Regions from separate parts of the Homo sapiens genome. Here region 2 is linked to region 1. Evidence: fine-mapped expression QTL. A gene starts in region 1. The other region holds a variant in brackets. All regions are shown on one strand. Distances are from middle to middle.

What was found.
Region 2: its variant is fine-mapped to the expression of RPA1 in whole blood (TOPMed, PIP above 0.99). The same link has a PIP of 0.9 or more in T cells and lung.

The regions. Positions count from the first base shown.
Region 1 is chr17:1,823,235-1,838,935 of GRCh38, forward strand. It overlaps RPA1 (replication protein A1), which reads left to right and starts at 6,771. Exons shown (of 17, transcript NM_002945.5): 1 at 6,771-6,892. The coding sequence starts at 6,860. It overlaps SMYD4 (SET and MYND domain containing 4), which reads right to left and starts at 6,668. Exons shown (of 11, transcript NM_052928.3): 1 at 6,492-6,668; 2 at 4,627-4,772. The coding sequence starts at 4,760. RefSeq lists enhancers at 711-850, 7,667-8,167 and a silencer at 6,520-7,039.
Region 2 is chr17:1,889,723-1,905,423 of GRCh38, forward strand. It overlaps RPA1 (replication protein A1), which reads left to right. Exons shown (of 17, transcript NM_002945.5): 15 at 2,111-2,218; 16 at 5,287-5,373; 17 at 7,349-10,360. The coding sequence ends at 7,453. Among named protein-coding and RNA genes, the nearest start is that of RPA1, 68 kb to the left of the region's middle. RefSeq lists enhancers at 14,447-14,496, 14,577-14,626. The variant C/G (reference allele first, on the strand shown) is at 7,933.

The sequences.
Region 1 (15,701 bases):
TAAAATAAAATTAGCTGGGCGTGGTGGCAGGCGCCTGTAGTCCCAGCTACTCGAGAGGCTGAGGCAGGAGAATGGCATGAACCCAGGAGGCAGAGCTTGCAGTGAGCCGAGATCACGCCACTGCACTCTAGCTTGGGTGACAGAGCGAGACTCCGTCTCAAAAAAAAAAAAAAAAAAAAAAAAAGAACTTGACAAGCCAATTCTAAAGTTCACATGGGGGAAATGCACACAAAATACCCAAGATATTCTGGAATACGAACAATGACTATGTGTGTGCGAGCAGGAAGCTGGCCTCTGGGCCACTTCCTGGGAGCCGCCTGGGTACTGAGACTCCCCTGCTTTCAAGTACCCTTTCTCTCTACTTCCGGTAAATCTCAGTGGGGAATCCATTTTTTGAGGCTGAAGAAGGGTAGACCCCATTTCACAGCAGGGTTGGGCACATGACACAGGCCTGGCCAATCAGAGGAGTCTCATACCTCTGGTTGAAGGGATGTGCATGTGATCAAAATTCAGTTGACCTGAGCCCCACCCAGAAGTTTTCTGCTGAAACTTCAGAAAGACAGCCTCTTCCCCTGGGGTGTTATTACACTATCAGGGTGTGCCCAGGGCTGTGAATGGTTATAGCACCCACTAGATGGAGAGAATCTGTCTGACACATGAAGAAATACACATTCTGATGACATCCTTTGAGCCCCTGAATACAACCTAGCCTGAAAATAGATCTCCCTTCAGATAGCCTAGTTTCATAGCTAAAAGTTTCATACTTTGAAGGGGGTTTCTGTTACTTGAAACTGAAGAGTTCTAGAGTTTCTAAAATGACACTATAGGCCAGGTGGGGTGGCTCACGCCTGTAATTCCAGGACTTTGGGAGGCCAAGGTGGATGGGTCACCTGAGGTCAGGAGTTTGAGACCAGCCTGGCCAACATGGTAAAACCCCGTCTCTACTAAAAATACAAACATTAGCCGGGCATGATGGCGTGTGCCTGTAACCCTAGCTACTTGGGAGGCTGAGACAGGAGAATCGCTTGAACCCACGAGGCACAAGTTGCAGTGAGCTGAGATTGCGCCACTGCACTCCAGCCTGGGCGACAGAGGGAGGCTCAGTCTCAAAAGAAAAATAATACTAATAAAATACACTATAAAGTCACAGTAATTAAAACCCTTTTGTTCCGGCACAGATCTAGAGCCTAGAAACAAATTTGTGGATAAGTAGTGATATGGCGTGGCTGTGTCCCCACCCAAATCTCATCTTGAACTGTTATTTCCCAGAAGCCTGTGTTGTCGGAGGGACCTGATGGGAGGTAACAGAATCGTGGGAGTGGTTTCCCCATGCTGTTCTCGTGATAGTGAGTGAGTTCTCACGAAATCTGATTATTTTATTTATATTTATATTTTTATTTTTTGAGATGGAGTCTTGCTCTGTTGCCCAGGCTGGAGAGCAGTGGCACAATCTCAGCGCACTGCACCCTCCGTCTCCCAGGTTCAAGCAATTCTCCTGTCTCAGCCTCCTGAGTAGGTGCGGTTACAGGCACATGCCGCAATGCCTGGCTAATTTTTTTTTTGCATTTTTAGTAGAGATGGGGTTTCACCATGTTGGCTGGGCTGGTCCTGAACTCCTGACTTCAAGTGATCCTCCTGCCCCAGTCTCCCAAAGCGCTGCGATTACAGGCGTGAGCCACCGCGCCCGGTGAAATCTGATGATTTTATAAGGGGCTTTCCCCCTTTGCTCAGCACTTCTCCTTCCTGCCACCCTGTGAGGGCTGTGCCTTTTTTTCCTTCGTCTTCCACCATGATGGTAAGTTTCCTGAGGCCTTCCCAGCCATGTGTGAGTCAATTAAACCTCTTTTCTTTATAAATTACCCAGTCTTGGGTATTTCTTGATAGCAACGTGAGAATGGAGTAACATGAGTAGGAATTTAATTTTAATAACTGAGGCATTTGCAAGCACTGGGGAAAGGATGCGTCATGCATTAAATGCTACAGAAAAATTGTCCACCTGGAAAAAAAGTGAGAATATTCCTTCACATAGTACACAAAATCAATTGGAGATGTATACATACATCATAACATAATGTTGTACCCCTTAAACGTATATTTTGTCAGTTATACCTCAATAAAGATGGAGGAAAAAGTGCAGAAGGATTAGAGAGCTAAAGGTAAAAAAATGTTAGCAGAAAACAATGAACATTTTTATCAACTCCCAAGTAGTTGGAATTACAGGCACATGTCATGTTGTCTGGCTTCATTTTTATACAGCCATATCTGTCATTTTCTTTCTTTTTTTTTTTTTTTTTTGAGAAATAGTCTTGTTCTGTCACCCAGGCTGGAGTGCAGTGGCACAATCATGGCTCGCTGCAGCCTTGACCTCCCAGGTTCAAGTGATCCTCCCACCTCAGCCTCCTGAGTAGCTGGGACGACAGGCACATGCCACCATGCTTGGCTAATTTTTAAAATTTGTTTATAGAGATGGAATCTCACTATGTTGCCCAGGCTCCTGGGCTCAAGCAATCCTCTCACCTTTGGCTCCCAAAGTGCTAGGTTTACAGGTATGAGCCACCGCACCCAACCTCATCTTCTTTTATACCTTCTGGGTTGTGTCTTGCTTAGGATGGTTCACTCCACCATCCTAAGGAAGACAGGAGGATCGCTTGAGCCCAGGAGCTTGAGGTCAGCCTGAGCAACATACTGAGACCTTGTGTCTAAAAATAAATTTTAAATGAAATTTAAAAATTTGAAACATATATACACAATTTATATACAATGTAAATGTAAAACATTTACATTGTAAATAGGGTAAAAAAGATAAACAGATTGGGAATAATTTATACAACAAATAGTAACTTACATAGCAAAGAACTATACAGCTAGATTTATGAAGATCTCCTACAAATGAACAAGAGAATAAAGACAACCTGCTAGAAAATGGGCAAGGGACACAAATAGGCAATACACACGAGAAATAAAAATGCACTGGGGGGCCGGGCGCAGTGGCTCATGCCTGCAATCCCAGCACTTTGGGAGGCCAAGGCGGGCGGATCACCTGAGGCCAGGAGTTGGAGACCAGCCTGCCCAACATGGCGAAACTCCATCTCTATTAAAAATACAAAATTAGCCGGGTATGGTGGAATGCGCCTGCAATCCCAGCTACTCGGGAGGCTGAGGCAGGAGAATCACTTGAACTTGGGAGGCGGAGGTTGCAGTGAGCCAAGACTGTGCCACTGCACTCCAGCCTGGGCAACAAGAGCAAAACTCTGTCCAAAAAAAAAAAAAAAAAAAAAAAAAAAGAAAAGAAAAGAAAAGAAATGAAGACTAACAAAAAAAGTATAACCCTAACTGTACCGAGTATCTGAACTGGCAAGGCTCAAAACTGAACTCATTATTTCATTCAATTAATATACGAGCGCCTACTATGTGCCTGGCACAAAGATAAAGACATCAACCTTGAACGTGAAAGGTGTGTGTTTCTGGATCTGCAAATATATAAGGTTCTGCTTTATACGTCATTTTAAGCACTAATAACAGCCAGTAACTAAACTAAGAACTTTATATACATTACCAAGTTGTCATTCAATTAATGTTTACTAACCACTTATTTTTTGACACTGCACTATTTTTGTCTATAGAAAGACAAACAGGCCGGGCACAGTGGCTCATGCCTGTAATCCCAGCACTTTGGGAGGCTGAGGCGGGCGGATCATTTGAGGGCAGGAGTTCAAGACCAGCCTGGCCAACATGGTGAAACCCTGTCTCTACTAAAAATACAAAAATGTGAGCTGGGCATGATGGTGTACGCCTGTAATCCTAGCTATTTGGGACGCTGAGGCATGAGAATCGCTTGAACCCAGGAGGTGGAGATTGCAGTGAGCTGAGATTGTGCCACTGCACTCCAGACTGGGTGACAGAGTGAGACCCTGTGTCAAAAAAAATAAAATAAAATAAAAATAAATAAATAAATAAATTAGCCGAGCATGGTGGTGTGCGACTGTAATCCCAAATACTCGGGAAGCTGAGATACGAGAATTGCCTGAACCCGGGAGGCGGAGGCAGTGGGCTGAGATTGCGCCACTGCACTCTAGCCTGGGTGACAGAGCGAGACAGTCTCAAGAAAAAGAAAAAAAGAAAAAAAAAAAAAGAAAAACAAATACAAACACGGTCCCTTCCCTCATGAAGTTCACAATCTAGCGGCAAAGGCAGGCATTAGTCAAAAGAGCACACACATATATAAAGGAAAATCACACAGCATTGTAAATGTACAAAGAGTGAAGATGGCCCAGCTGAGGCTCAGGGAGAGCTTTCCTGAGGAAAGATCTGGCTAATCCTGCAGGATGACAGAAGTGAATTAGTTCACAGGACACGCTGGGATAGAAACGAACCAGGAAAAGTACTTCAGGCATTTTCCATCAAAAAGAGATGTTACCAGGCCAGACATGGTGGCTCACGCCTGTACTCCCAGCACCTTGGGAGGCCAAGGTGGGAGGATTGCTTGAGCCCAGAAATTTGAGACCAGCCTGGGAAACAAGCAAGACTCAATCTTTATTTAAGAAAAAGACACATTACTTCAGAGCAAATGACAAAATAGAACATTTTTTGGCTCACAATTCCCTTGTTAAAGCTTGATTTACTTACTGAAGAAGTGAAGAGGAGTGAAGAAAGATATCCCTCAAGGTCTCTGCTGTAGAAATTGTGACCTGAACAGACGTCGGGAGTGAAGCCCACTTTTGAAGCAGATATGATTTCCATTCATCCACAGGCAGATCCATGCTGCTTTTGATCTATAAAATGAGTAAGAAAATAGGAATCTTACAAATGCACAATTTTAGAAAATCAAGAGTTCAGCCAGGTACGGTGGCTCACACCTGTAATCCCAGCACTTTGGGAAGCCGAGGTAGGTGGATCACGAGGTCAGGAGATGGAGACCATCCTGGCTAACACAGTGAAACCCCGTCTCTACTAAAACTACAAAAAAATTAGCCAGGTGTGGTGGCGCACACTTGTAGTCCCAGCTACTCGGGAGGCTGAGGCAAGAGAACTGCGTGAACTGGGGAGGCGGAGGTTGCAGTGAGCTGAGATCACGCCATTGCACTCCAGCCTGGGTGACAGAGCAAGACTCTGTCTCGGAAAAAAAAAAAAAAGGAAAATCAAGATTTCATTCAAGGAAGCCTGAAACAATAAAATCAATTCTTGTGGTCTTTTCCTCTAGTTTATATGCTAAGGAAGGATCTATATTTTCTCACAGCAATTCACTCAACATCCTTCCATTCAGAAATATTTACTGAAAGACTACTTTGTCACAGGCACCATGCAGGTGATGGTTATACAAAGACGAAGCAGACTAGATAGCTACCATCTGTGCTCTTAGATCCTCTTTTTTTTTTTTTTGTGAGGCAGAGTCTTGCTCTGTCACCCAGGCTGGAGTGCAGTGGCACCATCTCGGCTCACTGCACCCTCCGCCTCCCAGGTTCAAGCAATTCTCCTGCCTCAGCCTCCGAGTAGCTGGGATTACAGATGCGCGCAACTACGCCCGGCTAATTTTTGTATTTTTAGTAGAGACGGGGTTTCACCATGTTGGCCAGGCTGGTCTCGAACTCCTGACCTCAGATGATCCGCCAGCCTTGGCCTCCCAAAGCGCTGGGATTACAGGCGTGAGCCACCGCGCCCGGCCTGATCCCTCTCTAGTTTCTCTGAGACACATCCCAGATTTTTCTTTCTCACCCACCCCAGCAACTATTCATTTAACAAGGTATTTCCCTCTCTTACATAGTTCAGCGTTCTGATTAAGTCCTCACCATCTCGTCTGGCATTCTTCCTAGAGTGTTATAATTAATGTCCATGCCATTGGCACCACTCCCCACTTTCAATCCAGCCTCCAACACTGAGACAGAAGTCAGTGCTCTGCCCTTAAATTCATCAACGCTACTCCAAGCATACCAGGAAGCCCAGGACAAAACCATCCTTACTTGACCCTTGTCTGACTTTCTAATTCTCAGGTGTCACTTACTCCTCTGCATGCACCCTTGCATACTGAACAACTCATTGCTATCCCCGGCTTGCCAGGCTATTTCAACTCTCCAATGTTTTGGCATAGGCTACTCATGCTTTCCGGACCAACCCTACCCTGGCTTATGGAGTCCACCTGGAAAATTCCCACACGTTCTTCGACTCGGCTCAAATGGCACCTCCTCCGGGACGGCGTCCCTGATTTCCCAGCTGTGATTCCAACACCCTTGGGGCCTGTACCACGTCTACCTGGAGGTGGGGTTACTGACGGCATAAAGTGCCCCCACACACTGTCCTCTTCTCTAAGGACGGGGGCCGGGTCTGATTCCCTTTCGGAGACCCCCCACCCCCACCCCCCACCGCCACGGTGCCAAGCTCAGGGCTTGGAGGCGGGAAGTCAGCCCCGCGTTGCTGGACGAATCGGGTCACTACTGCGACTCTATTTAGCAGCGGAGGTCTCAAGGAACAGCTTTAACCTCCTCTGGGATACCAACCCGTGCACTCGCCAGAGACCGAGGCGAGAACGCCTCGAGAACCGCTCAGACGCGCCCGGAACTGCGCCCTGGTCTCCCTCCCAGCGCCCGCGCAGCTCCTGGCGCGCCCCTTGGCGCCCCGCTCCGCCCCGCACCGCGTCCGGCGTCCCGCGCCAGGCCTCGCTTGGGACCATGGGTGGGTCACGTGGGCCGCGCCTCGGCCAATGCGGCGGCTGCGTAGCGCCCGGGCCCGCCCCTGAGCCGCGCGCACGTCGGGGGCGGGAGCGGTGCGCGCAACTTCTCGGGCCAATAACTGCGCAGCGCGCGGGACCCGGGTGGGGAAGCTGGAGCTGTTGCGGGGTCCGCGGGGAAGTCTTGGCGGTGGAGCCATGGTCGGCCAACTGAGCGAGGGGGCCATTGCGGTGAGGAGGTGCCGGGGGCTGGGCCGGCGGTCCGGGGTGGCTGCGGCCCCGAGCCTCGCGGAGTAGAGAGGGGGAGGGGAGCCCGGGGCGACGGGGGATGAACGCGAGGGGAGGAGATGGCGGGGGGCGGTGGGGACCCGCCGGGCGTCCCTCTAGTGTCATCGCCCCCTCCTCAAAGCATTCTTTCGATCGTCTTTAAAACATGCTCACATTTTTCCTACGTAAGAACAAACTAAATAAACGCTTGCCTTTCTCTGCATCTTCCACCTGCGGACACTTTCTGTCTCTTCTCCTTTCCCCACCCACAGCCAAACTTCTTGTCTGGTTTCAGCCACTTCCTTTCCTCGCCTTTCATCAACTCTTTAACCCACTCCAGTCATCCCTTTGATCGCTGTAGAAAACCCTGGCTGAAGGTACCAGTGGCCTCCAAGTTGCTAAATCCAGCCCTTTTCCGTTTTCAGCTTACCTGAGTTCTCAGCAGCGTTTGCGTTTAAGCCCTGCTTGCTTCAGGTCACACCCTCTTCCTTGGTTTTTAGTGGCTCAGCTTGGCAGGTCTATCCCCGTCTTATTTGTAAGTCCCTCTTTGTAAATTTTTGTTGAATCAAGGCTCCCTCTAGGCCCTCTTGACTCCCGAGGCAATTTCTTTTTTTTTCTCCAGCCTGGGCGACACTCACTGTCGCCCAGGCTGGAGTGCAGAGGCGCGATCTCGGCTCACTGCAACCTCCGTCTCCCGGGTGCAAGTGAGTCTCCTGTCTCAGCCTCCCGAGTAGCTGGGACTACATGTGTGCGCCACCACACTCGGCTACTTTTTGTGTTTTTATTAGAGACTGGGTTTCATCATGTTGGCCAGGCTGATCTCGAACACCAGACCTCAAGTTATCCGCCCGCCTCGGCCTCCCAAAATGCTGGAATTACAGGCATGAACCACCGCGCCTGGCCCCAAGGCAATTCCATTGCCATCTATTAATATATGTCAGTTGCTCACAAATTTCTTTGTACAGAGCCACCTTTACTCTAAAAGACAAACTTCCGTCATCTGTCTGCTTATTCCATGCTTCAGAGGGTTTTAAGTTCAGTATACGTATCCCAAAGCAAATTCTTTATCTTTCTAAGTCTGGGCCTCTTGATCCCTATCTCCACGGATGGCACCATTATCTATTCAGTTCAGTGCTAACCAGAAATTGAGAAATCATTCCTCCTATATTGTCCATTACCTGGGCATCCAGTCCCTCACGAAGTGAAGTGTATTTTGCCTCTGCGTAGATCTATCAAGCCCACTGGCTTCTCTCCATCCATACTGGCACCGTCTTTTTTTTTGCCTGAGCTGCTGACTTCCACTCAGCATACGTTCCTGCCACCATTCCCATCCACAGCATACTCTCAGCCTACCTCTCCAGTCACCCCCACATTTTTTTTTAAATTTAGATTTCTGGTATATTCCATACTCCTACCTTCTTCCATGGGGCCTTTGAACTTTTTTTTTTTTTTTTGAGCTGGAATCTTGCTCTGTTGCCCAGGCTGGAGGGCAGTGGCGCGATCTCGGCTCACTGCAAGCTCTGCCTCCTGGGTTCACGCCATTCTCCTGTCTCAGCCTCCCGAATAGCTGGGACTACAGGTACCCGCCACCACGCCCGGCTAATTTTTTGTATTTTTTAGTAGAGACGGGGTTTCACCGTGTTAGCCAGGATGGTCTCGATCTCCTGACCTTGTGATTCGCCCGCCTCGGCCTCCCAAAGTGTTGGGGTTACAGGCGTGAGCCACTGTGCCCGGCCTTTTTTTTTTTTTTTTTTTTTTTTTTGAGGCAGAGTCTCACTCTTTCTCCCCATACCCCCCCACTACCGCCCCAGGCTGGAGTGCGGTGGCGCAATCTCGGCTCACTGCAACCTCTGCCTTCTGGGTTCAGGCAGTTCTCGTGCCTCTGCCTCCAGAGTAGCTGGGATTACAGGCATGTACCACCACACCTGCGTAATTTTTTGTATTTTTAGTAGACACGGGGGTTTCACCATGTTGCCCAGGCTGGTCTTGAACTCCCAACCTTAGGTGATCCACCCTCCTCGGCCTCCCAAAGTGCTGGGATTACAGAAGTGAGCCACCGCACCCGGCCCTGAACATTTTTTTCCCTCTGCCCACTGCCTGGGTGGTTCTTCACTCTTCCCCACACTGGCAAACACTATCTTCGTATCTCAGCTCATTTGTGACTTCCCTTACTAGGCTAAATCCCTTTGAGACCCCAATTCCTGTTCATTCACTTATTGAATTATTTATTTTTTTTCTTTTTGAGATGGAGTCTTGCTCTGTTGCCCAGGCTGGAGTGCAGTGGCACGATCTTGACTCACTGCAACCTCCGCCTCCTGGGTTCAAGCAATTCTCCTCCCTCAGCCTCCCAGGTAGCTGAGAATACAGGAGACTGCCATGATGCCCGGCTAATTTTTGTATTTTTAGTAGAGATGGGGTTTCACCATGTTGGCCAGGCTGGTCTCGAACTCCTGACCTCAAGCAATCCACCTGCTTCGGCCTCCCAGAGTGCTGGGATTACAGGCGTGAGCCACCGCGCACGACCCCATTCACTTATTAGATGCATGACTTGAGGCAAGATACTAAACTGTTTCTTTTCTGTAAAATGAGAGCAATGATATCTATTGCATAAGGTAAGTAGGAGGATGGAGTGAGTTATTAAATTTAAAGTGCTTAGCACACTGATACATAGTAAATGCTCAGTGTTTATGTTACCTATTAATAATTGCAGTTTTATGTTTGTTGATTTATCAGTTTCTTTTTAAAATTTTAAAATTATTGTGTTTGTTTGTTTGTTTGTTTTGAGACAGAGTCTTGCTCTGTTGCCCATGCTGGAGTGCAGTGGCACATTCTCGGCTCACTGCAACCTCTGCCTCCCGGGTTCAAGCGATTCTCCTGTCTTAGCCTCCCTAGAAGCTGGGATTACAGGTGCCCACCACCACACCCTGCTAATTTTTGTATTTTTAGTAGAGACAGGGTTTCGCCATGTAGGCCAGGCTGGTCTTGAACTCCTGGCCTCGAGATCCACCCACCTTGGCCTCCCAGTATGCTGGGATCACAGGCTTGAGCCACTGTGCCTGGCCTAATACTTTGTGTAAATTCCATGAGGCCTGCAATCATGTCTGGGTTATTTTACTCTGCATTGTATCCCCAATACCTGGAGAAGTGCTGGCAAGTTTTAGGTGCTGAATAAATGCTTGCTAGTTGCATGAATGAATGAGGCAGTGGGAAGAAAGGGACAGGTGAATGGGGAAGAAAGGCAGCTTGGGGGAAAAACAGGAACAGGAAGAACTATTGTTGGACTCAAGTGAATATTTAAATAAATTAGGAATGTGTGAATGCTGAAACCGGGGAAGTGATTTTAAATTGTAGCTTTCATTTACTTTATAGCTGCTACCTTGTGTCTTTAAGACAAATTAAGAATGTTTCTAGGCCAGGCGCAGTGGCTCACGCCTGTAATCCCAGCATTTTGGGAAGCCAAGGCAGGCAGATCACCTGAGATTGGGAGTTTGAGACCAGCTTGGCCAACATGGAGAAACTCTGTCTCTATTAGAAATACAAAATTAGCCAGGTGTGGGGGCGCATGCCTGGAATCCCAGCTACTTGGGAGGCTGAGGCAGGAGAATCTCTTGAACCCGGGAGATAGAGGTTCCGGTAAGCCAAGATCGCACCATTGCACTCCAGCAACAAGAGCAAAACTCCATCTCAAAAGAAAAAAAGAAAAGAATGGTTCTTCACTTTTAAAAAGACTGATCATGGGCCAGGCGCAGTGGCTCATGCCTGTAATCTAAGCACTTTAGGAGGCCAAGGCAGGTGGATCACTTGAGGTCAGGAGTTCGAGATCAGCCTGGCCAACATGGGGAAACCCTGGTCTACTAAAAATACAAAATTAGCTGGGTGTGTTGGCGTGTGCCTGTAATCCCTGCTGCTTGAGAGCCTGAGGCAGGATAATTGCTTGAACCCGTGAGGCAGAGGTTGCAGTGAGCCGAGATTGCACCAGTGCATTCCAGACTGGGCGACAGAGTGAGACTGTCTCAAAAAAAAATAAAGAATGATCATGGAGATATTTAAATAATTTGATAAGTTTTTTTATTTTTTAGAGATGGGGTCTCACTCTGTTGCCCATGCTAGTCTCAAACTCCTGGGCTTAAGCGATCCTCTCGCCTCAGCTTCCCAAAGTGCTGTGATTATAGATGTGAGCCACTGCACCTGGCCATGTTTTTATATTCAAAATTTTATAAACCTATTTCCAGCGTAGGTGAAGTATTTTGTTCATAAATGAAGAATGAAAGTTTCACATGTGTTTGTGGTGATGGAATGAGTTGGAGAACCTTTGCTGACTTTCATTATCAGCTAAAGCAGGTATCATTTTCGTTCAAAAGACACAGGCCACAAAGGGTACGCAAATACCACACACATGTGAAGGCGTTTGGGCAAGAGTCACATGATAAAATAAGAGATGATGCATAGAACTCTTGTGGTCAACAGAATACATAGCATTTGTATCTTAATTATATAACGAAAGGGGAAGGGAACTAATGTTTTTGACTATTTCTAATGTGACAGATGCTTTAGTAGTCAGTACTTAAGTAACCCTAGAAGATAGCTATTATACTCCCATTTTACAGAGGAAGGAAGTACAGAGAGGTTGAATAATGTGTCCATGGGGTGAAGATTTGAACACATGTGCCCTTGAGTATTACATTTGTTGCTTTATATACTTACTAGGGATTTTTTTTTTAAAGGGTCTCACTCTGTTGCCCAGGCTGGGGTGCAGAAGCACAATCTCAGCTCACTGCAACCTTCACCTCCCAGGTTCAAGTGATTCTTTTGCCTCTGTCTCTCGATTACAGACGTGCGCCACCACGCCCAGCTAATTTTTGTATTTTTAGTAGAGATGAGGTTTCGTCATGTTGTCCAGGCTGGTCTTGAACCCCTGGCCTCAAGTGATCTGCCGCCTCGGCTTCCCCAAGTCCTGGGATTACAGACTTGAGCCATTGCACCTGGCCGTAATTTTTTTTAAATGACAGAGTCTTGTTCTTTGTCTCTCAGGCTGGAGTGCAGTGGCATGATCATAGCTCACTGCAACCTCCAACTCCTGGGCTCAAGTGATCCTTCCACCTCAACCTCTCCAGTAGCTGGGAGTACAGGTGCATGCCACCATGCCCAGCTAATTTTTTTTTTTTTTAATTTTGTGTAGAGATGGGGTTTCGCCATCTTGCCTAAGCTGGTCTCTAACTCTTGGTCTCCAAACAGTTCTCCTGCCTTGCCTCCCAAGTCTTTGGGATTATAGGCATGAGCCACTGTGCCTGGCCTTGTCCCTTAAAATGAGTTACATTTGTAAACAGCTGATTTCTTTGGAGCATCGTCCCCATATACTTTTCTTTCATAAGTGATCTCATCCTTCTTCCACCCAACCTTCCCCTTGAATTTGTTGTTTGTTGTTGTTTCCATTTTAGCAGAATTCATGTTGCTCTGATAGGGGCTCTTTTCAAACTGATGTCTTATCCTTCTTAGTACCTCAAACTAGGTCTTGTTCAGACATGTTATAACAAGTTAGTATGAGTTTATTTTAGTGCAAAAAAAATTTTTGAAATGCATGCATAGTTTTTTCATAATGCACATTTTTCGTGTACTTTTTGAATCCCCCTCATACATGCACGTGGTTTTAAAATCAAACGGAACAGAAAGGTGTTCATGGCCGGGCATGGTGGCTCACATGTGTACTCTCAGCACTTGGGGAGGCTAATGCAGGAGGATCCCTTGAGGCCAAGAAAGAGTTTGATACCAGGCTGGGCAACATAGCAAGATCCTGTCTCTATTTCATTTAGAAAGAAGAAAGAAAGAGGTGTTTAATGTAATTACTGACCTCCTGCCTTACCTTGTCCAGTACTGTTCCCCAGAATAACTGCTTTTTAGAAAAATCACTGTCATTGACATTTTGCTTACGTATAGTAAATTGCACCTTTTTTATTTATTTATTTATTTATTTGAGGCAGAGTTTCCTCCTGTCACCCTGGAGTGCAGTGGCGTGATCTCAGCTCACTGCAACCTCTGCCTCCCAGGTTCAAGCAGTTCTCATGCCTCAGTCTCCTTAGTAATTGGGGTTACAGGTGCACGCCACCACCTGGCTAATTTTTGTATTTTTAATAGTGATGGGGTTTCACTATGTTGGCCAGGCTGGTCTCGAACTCCTGACCTCAGATGCTCCTCCTGCCTTGGCCTTCCAAAGTGCTGGGATTACAGGCATAAGCCACCATGCCCGGCCAAATTGCACGTATTTTAAATGTACAGCTTGATGAACTTTGACAAATGTGCGCACCCCTGTAACCACATTGCCCCTGTGGAGATATAGAATACTTCCATCAACGCACAACTCCTCTTGCTCCTTCCCCACCTCCATCCTCACCCTAGGCAACCAGTGTTCTGGTTTCTACCTTTGTAGGTTAGTTTTGCCTTTCCTAAGACTTCATATAAATGGAATCAAATAATATCTATCCTTTTGTGTCTGGCTTCTTTCAGCAGTTTTTTTTTTTTCCCCAGAGGTAGGGTCTCTGTCACCCAGGCTGGAGTGCAGCGACACAGTCATGGCTCACTCCAGCCTTGACCTCCTGAACTCAAGAGATCCTCGCACCTCAGCCTCCTGAGTAGCTGGGACTACAAGTGCATGCCACCACTCTTGGCTAATTAAAAAAAAATTTTTTTTTTTTTTTTTGAGACACAGTCTTGCTCTGTTGCCAGACTGGAGTGCAGTGGCGCAATCTCAGCTCACTGCAACCTCTGCCTCCTGGGTTGAAGCGATTCTCTTCCCTCAGCCTCCCGAGTAGCTGGGATTACAGCCGCATGCCACCATCCCCAGCTAATTTTTGTATTTTTAGTAGAGACGGGGCTTCACCACGGTGGTCAGGATGGTCTCGATCTCTTGACCTCGTGATCCACCCGCCTCAGCCTCCCAAAGTGCTGGGATTACAGGTGTGAGCCACCACGCCCGGCCTAAAAATATTTTTTGTAGCGATGGAGTCTTGGTGTGTTGTCCAGGATGATCTTGAACTCCTGGGCTCAAGTGATCCTCCCACCTTGGCCTCCCAAAGTGTTGGGGTTACAGGCACAAGCCACCACTGTGGACCAAAATGGTTTTTGAGATTTACCCATGTTAATTCAGTAATCTGCACCTTTTTATGGCTCAGTAGTATTCCATTGTATGACTATAACAAAATTTGTTTATTTACTTATTATTGCACATTTGGGTTATTTTCATCTTTTGGCTATTATAAATGAAGATGCTATGACCATTTAAGTACAACTCTTTTTGTGGAAATATGTTTTCGTTTCTCTGGGATAAATATCTAGGAATGTAATTGCTGGGTCACAGGTAACTGAATGTGTAAAAGAAATCGCCAACCTTTTCCAGTGTGATCATGAGAATTCTAGTTGCTCCATATCCTTGCCAGTCATCAGTCTTTGATTTCGAGTATTCTAGTGAATGTGTAATGGTATCTCACTGTGCTTTTATTTGTATTTCTCTGGTGGCTAGTGACGTTGAGCATCTTTTCGTGGGCTTACTGGCCATTTGTATATCTTCACGAAAGAAGTGTCTGTTCACATCTTTTGTTCACCTAAAAATTGGGTTTTGTGCTTATTAATGAGTTGTGAGAATTCTTGATTCTTGCTAGGTCTTTTGTTAAATATAAATATTACATATATTTTTTCCCAATCTGTGACTTGCCTTTTCTTTTTTGAAATTTTGTTTTTTTTGAAGTGCACTTTTAAATTTTCATGAAGTCCAAGTTATCAGGTTGTGTTTTTTTGTTTGTTTTTGTTTTGTTTTTTGCAGAGTTGTGTTTGTGTGTCCTAAGAAATCTTTGCTAGGCTGGATGTGGTGGCTCATGCCTGTAATCCCAGCACTTTGGGAGGCTGAGGCGGGCGGATCACCTGAGGTCGAGAGTTCGAGACCAACCTGGCCAACATGGAGAAATCCCGTCTCTACTAAAAATACAAAATTAGCTGGGCGTGGTGGCAGGCACCTGTAGTCCCAGCTACTCGGGAGGCTGAGGCGGGAGAATGGCGTGAACCCGGGAGGCGGAGCTTGTAGTGAGCCAAGATCGCACCACTGCACTCCAGCCTGGGCAACAGAGCAAAACTCCGTCTCAAAAAAATAATTAAATAAATAAAATAAAAACAGCAGGGTGCAGTGGCTAACGCCTGTAATCCCAGCACTTTGGGAGGCAAAGCCGGGCAGAACACCTGAGGTCAGGAGTTCGAGACCAGCCTGACCAACATGGAGAAATCCCGTCTCTACTAAAAATACAAAATTAGCCGGGCGTGGTGGCGCATGCCTGTAACCTCAGCTACTCAGGAGGCTGAGTCAGGAGAATTACTTGAACCCAGGAGGTGGAGGTTGTGGTGAGCCAAGATCGCACCATTGCACTTCAGCCTGGGCAACAAGAGTGAAACTCAGTCTCAAAAAAAAAAAAAAAAAAGAAATCTTTGCCTACCCGACCCAAGGTCACAAATCTTTTATGCTGTGTTTTCTTCCAGAAGTTTTATAGTTTTCGCTTTGCCTTGTGGTCTGTAATGCATTTCAAGTTTACTATTTTATCTATGATATATAGCTCTTTTTTAAATACAGATATTCAGTTGTTCCAGCCCTGTTTATTGAAAACACTATCCCATTTCATTGAGTTACTTAGTCACTTTATTTATTTATTTTTTTAATTTTTTATTTTTGAGATGGAGCCTCGCTCTGTCACCCAGGCTGGAGTGCAGTGGCACGATCTCGGCTCACTGCAAGCTC
Region 2 (15,701 bases), 66 kb after region 1:
GGCACAGTGGCTCACTTTTGTAATCCCAGCACTTTGGGAGGCCGAGGCGGGTGCGTCACCTGAGATCAGGAGTTTGAGACCAGCCTGGCCAACATGGTGAAACCCTGTCTCTACTAAAAATACAAAAATTAGCCGGGCGTGGTGGCGGGTGCCTGTAGTCCCAGCTACTCGGGAGGCTGAGGCAGGAGAATCGCTTGAACCCGGGAGGCAGAGGTTGCAGTGAGCCGAGATCACACCACTGCACTCCAGCCCGGGCGACAAGAGCAAAACTCCATCTCAAGAAAAGAGAAAAAGAAAACAGTTTCACATTTTTCCAAAGGATGATTTGGCAGTAATATATCAGAAGCCTGAAAAATGTTCATATTGGCCAGGCGCAGTGACTTGTGCCTGTAACCCCAGCACTTTGGAAGGCTGAGGCAGGATGATTGCTTGAGGCTGGGAGTTCGATATCAGCCTGGGCAACATGGCAAGACCCTGTCTCTACAAAAAGTAAAATTAGCTGGCTGTGGTGGTATGCACTTGTCCCAGCTACTCATGAGGCTGAGGTAGGAGGATCGCTTGAGCCCGAGAGGTCAAGGCTGCAGTGAGCCATGATCGTGGCACTGCACTCCAGCCTGGGTGACAGAGTCAGACCCTGTCTTTAAAAAATAAATAAATAGGCCGGGCACGGTGGCTCACGCCTGTAATCCCAGCACTTTGGGAGGCTGAGGCAGGCGGATCACGAGGTCAGGAGATCGAGATCATCTTGGCTAACACAGTGAAACCCTGTCTCTACTAAAAGTACAAAAAAATTAGCCAGGCGTGGTGGCGGGCACCTGCAGTCCCAGCTACTAGGGAGGCTGAGGCCGGGGAATGGCATGAACCCGGGAGGTGGAGTTTGCAGTGAGCCACGATCGCGCCACTGCATTCCAGCCTGGGTGACAGAGCAAGACTCCATCTCAATAAATAAATAAATTAAATTAATAAATGATAAATAAAATGAAATGTTAGCTTAGCAGGACAGTTCTACGTTTAGGCTCATTTTTTGTAAACTATAAACTTTTCATTGAACTAAGATGAAGAAAATTTGTTTTAGTTTGTGGAAACATCAGCCTTTCTGTTAAACTCCACAGCGCAATCTCCCGCACACTTGTTTGATTTGATATTTATCACACGTGTGCGTCATTGTAGTTCTTGCCCTGTGTGATGAGATGCTCTTTGCTTCTTAGAAGGATAGCGTGGGTTAAAGGAAGTGTGAGCCCAGGGTGTGATACCGTTGCTGTGTATTGAGAGCGCTTTTCACTTTTAACTGGTTTCGTCACCTTATTTTTCGTCATAACATTCTCTCTATTAAAAGCCTTGTACCCATGCAAAATGAAGATGTAAAATCGTCAAAATGATGCCTTAAAGAAAAACCACTCGTGTTTCTACAAAGGCTTTTACTTCAGCAAGTGGATTCTTTGAGATCTGCTTTCTTCCTTGACTTTGCCCTGTTTAATGTTACACCACAGCCCAGTGGGAGACATTTGATTGCTCATTTCCTTTGCCAGGTCAATTTGGTGACTGACAGAGGCTCACGGGCAGGCTCTTCAGTTGTCTGGGTGCCCAGCAGTGACAGAGCCGTCTCATGGAACTCCTCCTAGGAACTACAGAGTGGGCAATTGAAAATGCAGAGAACTCCCCCGATTCACTCAAAACCCTTCATCCAAAGCCAGCTGCACCTCGACAGGAACTAATCTGATGGGCCTCTCTCTGTCACCCAGGCTGGAGTGCAGTGGCTCGATCTCAGCTCGCTGCAACCTCCGCCTCCCGGGTTCAAGTGATTCTCCCGCCTCAGCCTCCTGAGTAGCTGGGATTACAGGCACCCGCCACCATGCCTGGCTAATTTTTGTATTTTTCGTAGAGACGGAGTTTCACCATGTTGGCCAGGCTGGTTTCAAACTCCTGGCCTCAAGTGTTCCACCCGCCTTGGCCTCCCAAAGTGCTGGGATGACAGGCATGAGCCCACTGCACCTGGCCCTCTCTGGAAATTATTTTAATAAGTGGAAAAAGAACATTAACCTCTCCCCATCTTCTCAGTGTGTCTTTTTATTATTTCTTTGCTGAAATAATGTAGAATTGTGTTTTTTAGGTAAATATTGCAGATTTTCAAGAGAATCAGTGGGTGACTTGTTTCCAGGAGTCTGCTGAAGCTATCCTTGGACAAAATGCTGCTTATCTTGGGGAATTAAAAGACAAGGTCAGCCACATATTTTATTATAACTTCTATAACTTTTAATGGTTCTCATTCTATAACACTGACCCCACACATTTTTTTTTTTTTGAGATGGAGTCTTGCCCTGTTTCCTAGGCTGGAGTGCAGTGGCGCGATCTCAGCTCACCGCAGTCTCCGCCTCCCGGGTTCAAGTGATTCTCCTGCCCCAGCCTCCTGAGTAGCTGGGATGACAGGCACCCGCCACGATGCCCGGCTAGTTTTTGTATTTTTAGTAGAGACGGGGTTTTACCATGTTGGCCAGGCTGGTCTCGAACTCCTGACCTCATGATCTGCCCGCTTCAGCCACCCGAAATGCTGGGATTACAGGTGTGAGCCACCACACCTTGCCCAACACTGGCCCTCTTTTTGCTGTTTAATATTTTTTAGTTTGTTTCTTTTTGGTATTGTTTGTATACAGTTTCTCAGCCTGATAATTATTTAAGAGCTCATCTGATGTTATCTAATCTTGTCCATTTGGGATGTGCTTAACAGTGAAATAATGTATATAAAAGTACTTTAAAACCAAAGCACTTTCTAAATCGAAGCCACCCGTTTCTCCTGTTCCTATTAGCACATCAGAGCTAGTGTGCCTGAGATGACTTAGGTCGGGAGGTGTCCCTGAAACAACCTGAATTATTACAGGCATGCTTTTTTAACATAGTAAATACCTTCCAGAAAAGTTGAGTCAGATCCTGGTTAAAATGCACGTATGTCAAGTTCCTGGGTCTGTCCTATAAAACAATAATAATAAATGCACATATAAGGTGCCTGCCATTTCAGCCCATCAGATGCAATTCTTATGCGGTGACTTTCTTCCGTAAGGTAACTTTGTCCATTTCATTTTTATAAGTTTGCATTTTCACATATTAGGTTTATTTAATGTACAGAATAGATTGCTAATAATGCTGAATTTAGGAAAGGTAGTTGCTCAGGTAAAACATAAGGAAGACCAATAAAAGCTATGTTTTCTGGGCCACATAAATGGGCACCTTTCTGTAGATGGCTTTTCCCCCGATTTCCTCCAAATTGGTTGGAATACTTGTAAAGGCCACAAAGATGAAAGGCTTTGCCATTTGTTCTGGTGTGTTTTTCTTTTTCTTCCTGTCCCCAGTTCTGTCTGTTTGGGCTCTGCCCTGACTCTTTTTTTAAATTGTCCATGAGAGCTCTCAAAATAGTCTCAACAAATCCTGTTACAGAAATAACTAGAATTGACTTTAAAGTGTGATAGTATCTTTTGTCTGTTTTTACCTGGTCTTCAATTTTCGTATCAGATTTTAAGGCCCGAGTAAGCCTTTCAGGATTTTTATGAGCTTATTATATTTGACTGTTTTTTCTGCCGGTGAATGAGGACATATAGAAACTTCCCCGAGGAACCGTGAGATCCTGGAGTTCGCACTCCACGCCCCTCATCTTGGAAGCATAATGGCAGCCGGTGTAATTTTCTCAAGCTTTAACCCATTGTTTTATTTTCATATCTGAAAGTCCATTTGGTTTGGGTTTGGGTTTTGATCAAGTAACCTTTACAGAAAAGAGTTCTGTATAGCAAAGCTGCTTTCACGCCGTGCGTGACTTGCAAAAAACACTAGGTTGGTGTGAACTATTAATTAGTTTTTCTTTTTTTTTGTCAAAGGTCTCAATCAACTCTGTTAATATAGTTATTACACATTTATTTATGCATCTTTATACAAACTATATTCTCTAATTCTTGTCTGTTTACCAGACTTTTTTTTTTTTAATAAACTTAAATTGCATTTGAGGAGTGAGAGAGGGAAAAGGATTGTTTTTAGGCCTTCCCTAGCCTTTGCGCACCTCAACAGTCTTCTCTGCTTGCACACCAAATCAGTAGCTATAAATACAGAGGCTGAAATCACGAATTATATTGAACTTTCTTCTGAGTGTTTTTCCTTTTTTTCTTTTTTTTGAGACAAGGTCTTGCCTCATCACCCATGTTGGAGCGCCGTGGTGTGCGATCATGGCTCACTGCAGCTTCAAACTCTTGGGCTCAGACAGTCCTGCCACCTCAGTCTCCTGAGTAGCTGGGACTACTGGTACACGCCACCATACCTGGCTTAAGTTTTTTTTTTTTTTTTTTTGGTAGAGATGGGGTTTTGCTATGTTCCCCAGGCTATTCTTGAACTCCTGGCCTCAAGCAGTCCTCCCACCTCGGTCTCCCAAAACATTGGGATTATAGTCACGCGCCACCATACCTGACCTCCTAATTTTTTTTTTTTTTGAGAGTCTCGCTCCATAGCCCATGCTGGAGTGCAGTAGTGCAGTCTCAGCTCACTGTAGCCTCCGCCTCTCAGGTCGAAGCAATTCTTCTGCCTCAGCCTCCCTAGTACCTGGGATTACAGGCACCTGCCACTATGCCCAGCTAATTTTTGTGTTTTTAGTAGAGATGGGGTTTCACCGTGTTGGCCAGGCTGGTCTTGAACTCCCAACCTCAAGTGATCCACCCGCTTCCGCTTCCCAAAGCGCTGGGATGACAGGTATGAGCCACCGTGCCCAGCCTTAAAGTCTTAGAAACTTCCTAAGAGCGTTTTTAATTTTTTGTGTCTAGTAAAGCATACATAACCAAATTTGCCTTTGTAACCATTTTTACGTGTACAGTTTAGTGGCGTTAGGTACATTCACATTACTGTGCCCCTGTCACCACCATCCTTTTCCAGTACTTTTTTAAATAGGCAAATTCATAGAGACAGACGACAGCCTTGTGTTTTCCAAGGATGGAGGGAAGGGGAGAATGGAGACACACTGTTCATGGGTGGCGATTTGAAACTCTGCACATTAAGCAATAGCTCCTTTTCCAAAACCCTCTTCTCCCTGGCCCTGACAACTGCCATTCTACCTTCTATGAATGTGATTAGTGTTTTAATTTTCAATAAGATTCTACTTAAAACAGTTTCATGTAATGTTACCTGTAGATGAGTCATTCCTAAGTAATTTGAAACTACCCAGGAGATGCATTTTCAGAAGTCTTTTTAAAAGTCTTATCAGTATTTGCAAGTTGTCCAGTGGTTTCCATGTGTCAAGTTTTATGTTTGTTTTTGCAGAATGAACAGGCATTTGAAGAAGTTTTCCAGAATGCCAACTTCCGATCTTTCATATTCAGAGTCAGGGTCAAAGTGGAGACCTACAACGTAAGTAAGGGCCTGGGCAGCAGGGTTGGTGGTGGGGAGGTGCTGTTTGTCACCTACGGCAGTGTCGTGACACTCCCTGGCAGGGAGTTACTGTACTCACTGCCAGACCCCGGTGCTGACTTTGCCCAACACAGGTGCTGTTATGATCCCCATTTTCAGATGAGGAAGGAGAGAGAGCTTAAGTGTCTTGTCGAAACAATGGCGGGGGGGTGGGGAATACAATATGGATTTTTTTGTTTGTTTATTTTTTTTATTTTTATTTTTTTTCAGTTAAATCCTAGGATTTTTTCGTCTGTGTTCTGACAAAAAAATTATAACGCATGCAGTAGAGTCATATCTTTGACAAATTTAGATTGTAGAAAAGTATATTAAGTATATGAGCCGGGCGTGGTGGTGTGTGCCTGTGGTCCCAGCTACTTGGGAGACTGAGGCAGCAGTTCAAGGCCAGCCTGGGTAACATAGTGAAACCCCGTTTCTAAGTCAGTCAGTCAGTATATGAAACAAAGGCCACGTGTGGTTAAAACTACCTTGAAAATTCCTGAAATTGCCCATAATACCATATAGTATTTATTTATTTATTTATTTATTTATTTATTTATTTATTTATTTGAGACAGAGTCTCTGTCACCCAGGCTGGAGTGCAGTGGGACGATCTTGGCTCACCACAACCTCCGCCTCCCGGGTTCAAGTGATTCTCCTGCCTTAGCCCCTCGAGTAGCTGGGATTACAGGCGCCCGCCACCATGCCCGGCTAATTTTTGTATTTTTAGTAGAGACGGAGTTTTCACCATGTTGGCCAGGCTGGTCTCGAACTCCTGACCTCAGATGATCCACCCGCCTCAGCCTCCCAAAGTGCCAGGATTACAGGCATGAGCCACCGCGCCCAGCTTAGTTATAGTTATAATCAAACAGTATTGAGCATGGTCTGCCAGGTAACTGTTCTACATCCTTTACGTGGAACATCTCACTTGAGCCTAGTAACCCTATATGTAGAAACTGTGGTTACCCTATTTTGCCACTGAAGGAATTACATACAGAGAGACACGGGCATTCAGAGAACAAGTCACTTGCCTAAGTTGTATGCTAGCAAGTGGTCGAGCTAACGTCCAACCCAGGCAGCCTGACTTCAGAGCTTTGCTTTTGATCATGCTTACGAGTATCACGGGATTTAGTACCGACCAAGCACACAGCAGTGTGACAGCCCCGAGCTCGCCTGTGCAGCCTTCCTGGGTATCACTCCGTTCTGCCCGGAAAGGCACCATTCAGGCCGTGAGTGTAAACGTACGAGTGGGCAGGGGGAGTGGTAGAAACGCCCCTGCTGATTGCAGGGTTTACTCACGTATTTACCTTAACGCCCGTTCTTCTGCGACTACTATAAACATTAAATGAGATAGGGGATCAGATGTCACCGTGAAACAATGTCAGGGAGTGGGGTGGGGCTGGGGGGGATTTTTGGGGCCATTCAGCCCCATCGTGTCTGGACAGGGAAGGTGAAGTGAAGAGAGGCTGCCTCCCCAGAGCTGAGACAGGACAGACTCGGTCCTCTCCCTCTGCTGCAGGTGCTCTTCCTTTCACCACTCAGCTTTTCTTGAAATGAAAGTTTGAAAGTTTAGCTTTCAGAACTAGCTGTGTGGCTTTGTGCAAGTCACATGTCCTCTCTGGGCTGTATCCCCTGCAGTAGGGAGAATAAATGAAACTAGAGAAACCCTCTAAAGTCCATCTCACTAGGATTCTAGGCTTCTGGGTGTTTGGGAGCTTGGGTAAAGAATCAGAAGGGCCTGTGCTGGAGAAAGGACCTGTTCACTCGCCCAGCCCCAGACATTCAGGAGGAGGCTGTCACTCACTGGAATGACTGAACTCTGAACCCGTGCGTCTGTTCCCTCCCGCTGGGCTCACTGAAACCACTGAAGCAAAAGGGGTTTCACTGCTCCACACCACACTTTCACTGCTCACAAACTACTTCTCCCTTTTTGAAGGACGAGTCTCGAATTAAGGCCACTGTGATGGACGTGAAGCCCGTGGACTACAGAGAGTATGGCCGAAGGCTGGTCATGAGCATCAGGAGAAGTGCATTGATGTGAGAGGAGCAGTGCCAATCGGGCAGAAGTTTGCAAATAGGCAGAATGGAATCGATTTCCTCCCACCTCCGTGTGACGATCCCATGTTAGCTACACAGTGCAGAGGCTCTTGATGGTGGACTAAGCAATTTCCCCCCTCGTGCGCATCTCAGAACCCATCGGTAGGCAAAGGAAAATACGCTCAGGTGGTTGTGGTGTAGACTGTGTCAGGCCTACGGAGTCAGCCAGTGGCTAGCGCAAGACCAGTCACTCCCTCTGCCTTCAGGCTTCTGTCAATTTCATTATCATCAAGCAGGAATTATGTCGTAAGTCACTGACCCTAACTGCAGACCATGAAGTAAATTATGTAACTAGGTTTTTGCTTCTCCAGTGGTGACCACCCCCCCCCATCCCCGCTCACAACTTGGGTTCTTCTCAGCGGGGCGAGCTGAGAAGCGGTCATGAGCACCTGGGGATTTTAGTAAGTGTGTCTTCCTAGAATT[C/G]GAAGGCTCTCTCTTTCTAGAGGTGCTACATAGTTGGTAATGCTTGGAATGGCAATAGGGTAGAATGATTAATCAAAGGCATATCTTCTATATCTGAAGAGTATCCTTCCTTCAGGGTTTAATAGACTGAGTCAGATGGGTCTGATATTAATCAAAATTGTCTCTTCTGAGGACCGCTGATAAGCATTGACTTGCCGTCCCCTAAGGAAATCCGAGCGGCTACAAAGCGTTTCTTTACTTCTCACTTCAATTAATGCTGCGCTTCGCTTGGTGAGTGCGTACTTTTTCTACCTGTACACATTCCTGCATTCATGTATTTTGTTTTTTTTGACTAAAGCTATGTTACATGGAAAGGATTTTGAAGCCTTTTGTTTCCCTTGCTTTGTTTTAATAAACAGTATATTCTTTGGTTGTGAATCCTACTTTCTTTGAATGCAAAGAGTTCCTATAACTGGAAAGCAATTAATTAGCCTTCATAATAAATGTTCACTTGGGGGGGATGTTAACTCATTATAAACCCGAAGATTAGTCCAAGGCATGGAGATCCTTCTTCCTAGTGTTTGCAGCCCTGAAATGCATCTTTCAAAGCATGAAAACACTAAAAACAAAAAGCCATTTTGCCTGAGGATGCTGATGATCTGGCACTTGGGATTTTATTGATGTTTACGCAGCAGTCTAACACCAACCACGCTTTGAAATGTGTACAGACAGTGAGCTGGTAAGAAAACAGTAATTATGCTAGTGGGCCTTTCAGTCAGCAAAAGCATGCTCGCTCTGTGTGTTCCTAATCATATTAATTATCTATCCGGTGGCTGCAACACACCGCCTGCCATTGGCCGCACATCTCGCCGTCGTACCCCGGCAGTGCGGCGGTCACTCTGCAGCCAGAGGACCTGCTGTTCATCACTGCACATGCCGCCTGCGGAGGCTTTTGGATATGGGGAGTGATGGTGTCCTGTCTGTCTCCCCCCTCGGTGTCTGCCGTTGACATAGGGGCCAGCCAGCCCTAGACGGGATGACTTCCGTTCCTGAGGACAGACACAGAGGGACTCCTGCTCAGCCTCACTAATTGTTTAGACACATTCCTTCCTACCCTTCTCTAGTCTCAGGAGATGGTAACTGGGTCGCATTTCAGTCTCTGACTGAGGCCTCAGCCATTTTTACGGAAGTTCTTTTCTGTCTGACCTTGCTTATAAAGCATCGACGAGAAAATTACAGTCTTCAACCCTCTTCTGGATTGACAAATTGTGGCTGGGAAGTGGCGATCTAGCTTTCAGCCCAGTAACCAGTCTTTCATGCCTACTACTCCCAGCATTCCCTCCTCTCCCCACGTGTCTGTCCACACAGTGAAGAGGCCTGACCAGCCGTGGTACCAGGACAGGACGTGTCCAGGGAACGCTGACACCTGTCCTCGCGCCTTCTCAGTGGCCAGCGTGATGAAACCAGCACGTCTCCGTGGATGTGATTGGGAACCCAGGGGCAGTGCCAGGGGGAGGGCTCCCTCGAGGAGGCTGTTTCTAACAGATTTCCCCACTCAAAGATCAGATCACCAGCAGAGGAGCATCAGAAACTGGCTCCACTGTTGGGCTTTTCAGAGATTTTGGTCCCTGCGGGTTGCCTAAATAGATTCTGGCCCACAGTTTACCTCGAAAGGCTGTTGATGTTGTTCTGTTTCTCCTCTTTCACTTAGAGATCAATGTTGATTTTGCGTACACCATGACATCAGCGTTAGGCAATTAGGAGAAAAAAATCTAATCATTTCGCCTTTATTTCAAGTGGTTCTTGAATTCCCTCCAGTCTCATTGTGAAAGGGGCAGGGAAAAAAATAAAAGGGTAATAATCTGATTTCTGTCCATATTTCCAGTGTTTTATGCTTTCCATTAAAACCTTGCTAATCTCTCGCGTGCTGTTCCTTTTTTGAACTGCAGGGTCAAAAATGTTCCCCTCCCCCACTTCTGTTTCCTGAGTGGGCTGTCTTCAAAAAGTATAAATACTATTGATCGTGGTATTTAATACACTAATGAAACCCATGGTTATTGACTACATAATTAATATACTGTCCAAAAGTGAAGTTTGGCCGCCCAGTATGTAAAGGTTTATATTGACTCATGTTTCTTTGGCAATATGCCGCCCAAGGTTTTATTTATAGAGGATGAAACAGGTTGTTTGGTCTCCTTTTCTTCTTTTCACCTGTTAGAAGGCCACTATTCCCCTAGTAAACTGATTGTTTCCTTGTCTCAAAGGGAAGATTCCCCCCACTCCCCGGCCACCTTTTATGTGGTTTGTTAACTCTTAGTCTTATATCCACTCCGCTGGTAGAGTTCTGGCTTTTATAAACACCTTTGGAAGTCATCGGTTCCTCAAAAAGAGAGCATAGATGTTTAATTTTCACTTATTCAAAAAAACTGGTATTTTTGTTATTAAGACATTAAGTAAATGTTTAAGAAAAAAAAGGATAATTTGGACTATTGACTTTCTTATGCAAGTAATCATATTTGTTTGTTTGTTTGTTTATTTATTTTGAGACGGAGTCTTGCTCTGTCACCCAGGCTGGAGTGCAGTGGCACGATCTCAGCTCACTGCAACCTCCGCCTCCCAGGTTCAAGCGATTCTGCCTCAGCCTCCTGAGTAGCTGGGACTACAGGCATGTGCCACCATGCCTGGCTAATTTTCTGTATTTTTAGTAGAGACGGGGTTTCACCGTGTTAGCCAGGATGGTCTCGAACTCCTGACCTTGTGATCCACCTGCCTCGGCCTCCCAAAGTGCTGGGATTACAGGTGTGAGCCACCGCGCCCGGCCTCCATGTTTATTTTAGGAAAATAATCTACAGTTAAGAAAAACAAAATTGGCCTGGCACAGTGGCTCATGCCTATAATCCCAACACTTTGGGAGGCTGAGGCGGGCAAATCGCTTGAGCCAAGGAGTTCGAGACCAGCCTGGGTAACATAAGGAGACCCCCGTCCCTACAAAAAAATAAAAATTAGCTGGGCGTGGTGGCACACACCTGTAGTCCCAGCTACCTGGGAGGCTGAGGTGGGAGAATCACCTGAGCCGTGGGAGGTCAAGGCTGCAGTGAGCCATGATTGCACCACTGCACCCCAGCCTGGGCGACAGAGCGAGACCCTATCTCAAAAAAAGGGGGAGAAAGGGTGGGTGCGGTGGCTCTCCCTTGTAATCCCAGCACTTTGGGAGGCCAAGGCAGGTGGATCACCTGAGGTTAGGAGTTTGAGACTAGCCTGGCCAACATAGTGAAACCCCACCTCTACTAAAAATACAAAAATTAGCCAGGTGTGGTGGTGGGCTCCTGTAATCCCAGCTACTCGGGCAGCTGAGGCAGGAGAATCACTTGAACCTGGAAGGCAGAGGCTGCAGTGAGCTGAGATCGCACCACTGCACTCTAGCCTGGGCGACTGAGCGAGACTCCATCTCAAAAAGGCAAAAGAAAAATAAAATTACTTAGGATTTCACCAACCAGTAATAAACACTTGTGTAGCTGGCTACTTTTTTCTTCTTTTTTTTTTTTTTTGAGACAGAGTCTTGCTCTGTCGCCAGGCTGGAGTGCGGTGACACGATCTCAGCTCACTGCAACCTCCACCTCCCGGGTTCAAGCAATTCCCCTGCCTTGGCCTCCCAAGTAGCTGGGACTACAGGCATGTAGCTGGACTACAGCCTGGTAGTTGGGACTACAGGCATGTGCCACCGTACCCAGCTAATTTTTTGTATTTTTAGTACAGATGGGGTTTCACCATGTTAGCCAGGATGGTCTCGATCTCCTGACCTCGTGATCCGCCCTCCTCGGCCTCCCAAAGTGCTGGGATTACAGGTGTGAGCCACCGTGCCTGGCCCTGGCTAGTTTTTTCTATGTATCTATGTGTATAGAGTTTAAATTAAAAATGGTAGCATAGTAAGCATATCATTTTGTAATGATTTTCTCCTAGGATGGGCATCTTTATTTTGATAAAAATTGCATCAGAACCACCATTAGGCCAGGTGCAGTGGCTCACACCTATAATCCCACACTTTGGGAGGCCAAGGCAGGTGGATCACTTGTGATCAGGAGTTCAAGAGCAGCCTGGCCAACATGGTGAAACCACATCTCTACTAAAAACACAAAAATTAGCCGGGTGTGGTGGCTCACCCCTGTAATCCCAGCTGCCCGGGAGGCTGAAGCAAGAGAGTCCCTCCCCGTGAGGCAGAGGCTGCAGTGAGCCAAGATCACACCATGGCACTCCAGCCTGAGCGACTGAGGGAGACTCCATCTCAAAACAAAAAAATCACAAACATAATTAAAAGATTTACTAATCATTAATAGCTTTAGATAAATAATTTTAAGTGGTGTTTGGCTCTTTGGATGTGTTTTCAGCCAATTCACTCTTGCAGGATGCTTATACTTTTTCTAATTGTTATAAATTCAAGATTTCACGAGCAGAAGCGTTTATGCTTTGTGGCACTGACAATCCATGCCTTTTCTTGTTCTGTTAGGTTCTCTCATTGATTTTTCTTTGCCTAAGTCCAGGGATAACTCCTCTAACCCTGTGTACCACCAAGGGCTGGTAGGTAATTTGAGCAGGTCCTTCCTTGGAAGCAGGTAGATTAATGTAGGGAGGGGAGGGAAAAAGAAGGCTTTGGAGCCCTGGTTTCATCCTGCCTACTACACAGACGGGGGCTGTGCCTATGAAGAGGCGAAACTCTTGTTTCCCACCACCCTGGCAAAGAAGGCCTCTTGAGAATACATTTGACTTGCCTATAAATCAACCTGATTATCTAAAGCTATTAATGATTATTAAGTCTTGTAATTATATTTGTAATGATGGTTTTGAAAAGTCATTGAGAAAAGTATGTAGCCACTCGTCTTCATGGTTCCAGCCTGTCAGTATGTGACTTTATTTTTTGAGATGGAGTCTCTGTCGCCCAGGCTGGAGTGCAGTGGTGCGATCTCGGCTCACTGCAACCACCACCTCCTGGGTTTAAGTGATTCTCCTGCCTCAGCCTCTTGAGTAGCTGGGACTACTGCACGCCCAGCTGATTTTTTGGGGTCTTTTTGTTTGTTTGTTTGTTTGTTTTTTAGACGGAGTTTCACTCTTACCCAGGCTAGAGTGCAGTGGCACAATCTCGGCTCACTGCAACCTCTGCCTCCCAAGTTCAAGCAATCCTCCTGCCTCAGCCTCCCAAATAGCTGGGACTACAGGCGCCCGCCACCATGCCCAGCTTATTTTTTGTATTTTTAGTAGAGACGGGGTTTCACCGTGTTAGCCAGGATGGTCTCAATCTCCTGATCTCGTGATCTGCCCGCCTCTGCCTCCCAAAGTGCTGGGATTACAGGCGTGAGCCACCACGCCCAGCCTTAGTATGTGACTTTTTTTTTTTTTTTTTTTTTTTTTGAGATGGAGTTTCGCTCTTGTTGCCCAGGCTGGAGTGCAATGGCGTGATCTTGGCTCACTGCAAACTCTGCCTCCCAGGTTCAAGCAATTCTCCTGCCTCAGGCTCCCGAGTAGCTGGGATTTACAGGTATATGCCACCGCGCCCAGCTAATTTTCTATTTTTAGTAGAGACCATGTTGGTCAGGCTGGTCTCAAACTCTCGACCTCAGGTGATCCGCCCACCTTGGTCTCCCAAGGTGCTGGGATTACAGGCGTGAGCCACCGCGCCCAGCCAGTGTGTGACTTAAAGATATCTGTCCCTGAGAGCTATGGACTATTTAGAGCAAGGCTTGGGGGCTAAGTAGTCATATCACAGTGATATTAAAATGCAGTTGAGGGGGAAATTGCTGGAAGACTGGAGTCAATCAGGAAAGACTTCACAAAGAATTGGGTGATTTGAGACTCACTGATTAGAGCCTTCATTTAGGTCGGGGCTGTCCGGTCTGTATGAGGCAGACCGAGAGCAACACTGGTAACAGTGGCATGCGCTGTGTTCGTCACTGACACGAAGCCACGCGGTGCCACGGAGGCTGGGTAGAGGTACTGAACGGAAATGGGTTCCTGGTGCAAATAGGACAGTGTTTGACTATGGGCTGAGTGAAAGTTTCTTTTTTTTTTTTTTAATTTTTTATTTTTTTGAGATGGAGTCTCTCTCTGTTGCCCAGGCTGGAGTGCAATGGCACGATCTCGGCTCACTGCAACCTCCACCTCCCAGGTTCAAGCGATTCTTCTGCCTCAGCCTCCCGAGTAGCTGGGATTATACAGGCGTGTGTCACCACATCTGGATAATTTCTGTATTTCTAGTAGAGACAGGGTTTCACCATGTTGGCCAGGCTAATCTCGAACTCCCGACCTCAGGTGATCCGGCCTCCTCGGCCTCCCAAAGTGCTGGGATTACGGGCGTGAGACACTGTGCCCGGCCAGTAAGAGGTTCTTGTGTTATCCATTGCCATACCCCTAACCTGCATTGGGTTTGTCGTGACAGTGTCTGACTTGCCAGTGAGCTCGTGGGTGTTTGTGAGAGGCTTTGAACCAGCCACCTGGCTGCATTTGCAGCTTCTCAGGCTCTTAGTAGCTGTCGCTTTACACCCTCTCCTTAGCTGTTGATGAGTCTCAAAATGTATACTTTTCAATAAAACAAATCTTTTTTTCAGCCTTGAATAGACCCTGTGAAAAACTGAATCCCACCTGCCTCGTGAGAAATATTTATATAGCCAACTCAGAAGTGATCGTGTAAACTTTTAATAATTGCGAGCCGTTCTTATAAAATTATGCCCGTTCCCTAGTGCATTACCCAGTTGGTAATTGGAAGTTTGTGCTGTCATTAAAAATGACAGCTTCCTCAGATAACATTCTCGGTGCTTGTAAAATGCAAATAACCAAACCTATATTTAACTTATGTGTGTTGCAGCTTCCTTTCAACGGCCAGGTAACCTAGGGGGCTGGTGCCTGTTAAAGAGGAGGGCTTGCCGCGGGGAACTGCAGCTTTGTGCTCTTCAATGCCCAGCCCTGAAATGGAGTTAGAACAGGCAGGACTTTTTAAAAATAAGCCCCAGTTGGACTCTCATCTCCTCTCACCGTTGACACTGCTGTTCATGTTGAAGTTTATTTATATCTTCAGTCAGCCATGGTACAGAGGTCATTTCCATTGGCCTAAAATTTTAGAGGCTTATATGTTTGCCTGGGAAAGCTGATCTCCTCAGCACTTAGGCTTGTAATGCAAAGCCTGTCTCTTGCAGAAGCTTTTCTGCTTCCATAACACGGCGACTCCCACCGTCACCACCACCACCAATTTCCTGCTCCACGATTTATTCAAAATCTGAATAGCTGTATAAGGTGCATCCCTGCAAATGAGCTCTCCTCCTCTAATGGGCTCTTTCCAGGCAGCAAACCTTTCACAAAGGAGCCACTAATTAAGCAAAAAACAGTTTGTCTTGCTTAGCCACGTTTCAGGAGTCCAGCAGTCAGTTTAGAAGACGGCAACATCCTTTACAGCCGTGATGGTAATAATATTCTTTTGTCTCATACCAGGGTCTCTAACTGGCAATTTGGGTGTCTGGGTGTGCGTGTGTCCCTGTTCTGTCTTGCTCTCCATCTTGAAGAGGAAAATTTGTTTCCGTGGACTTTTATTTTTTTGGAAATCCTTGTTAAAGTTACTCTGTAAGGATCAAACCCACACCAAGCCTTCCTGGTTGGAAAGAGGCGCTGCCTGAGTGTCGATTTGCAGTGGGGGCACGCGCAGGCTCTCCGGGAAAACGCCTGTCAGTCAAAGCGGCTCTCTCGTGAGAGCGTCTGACTGCTCGGTTCCCTTCCATCTCCGTCTGCTGGAGAATTGAAGGTGTTAGCAG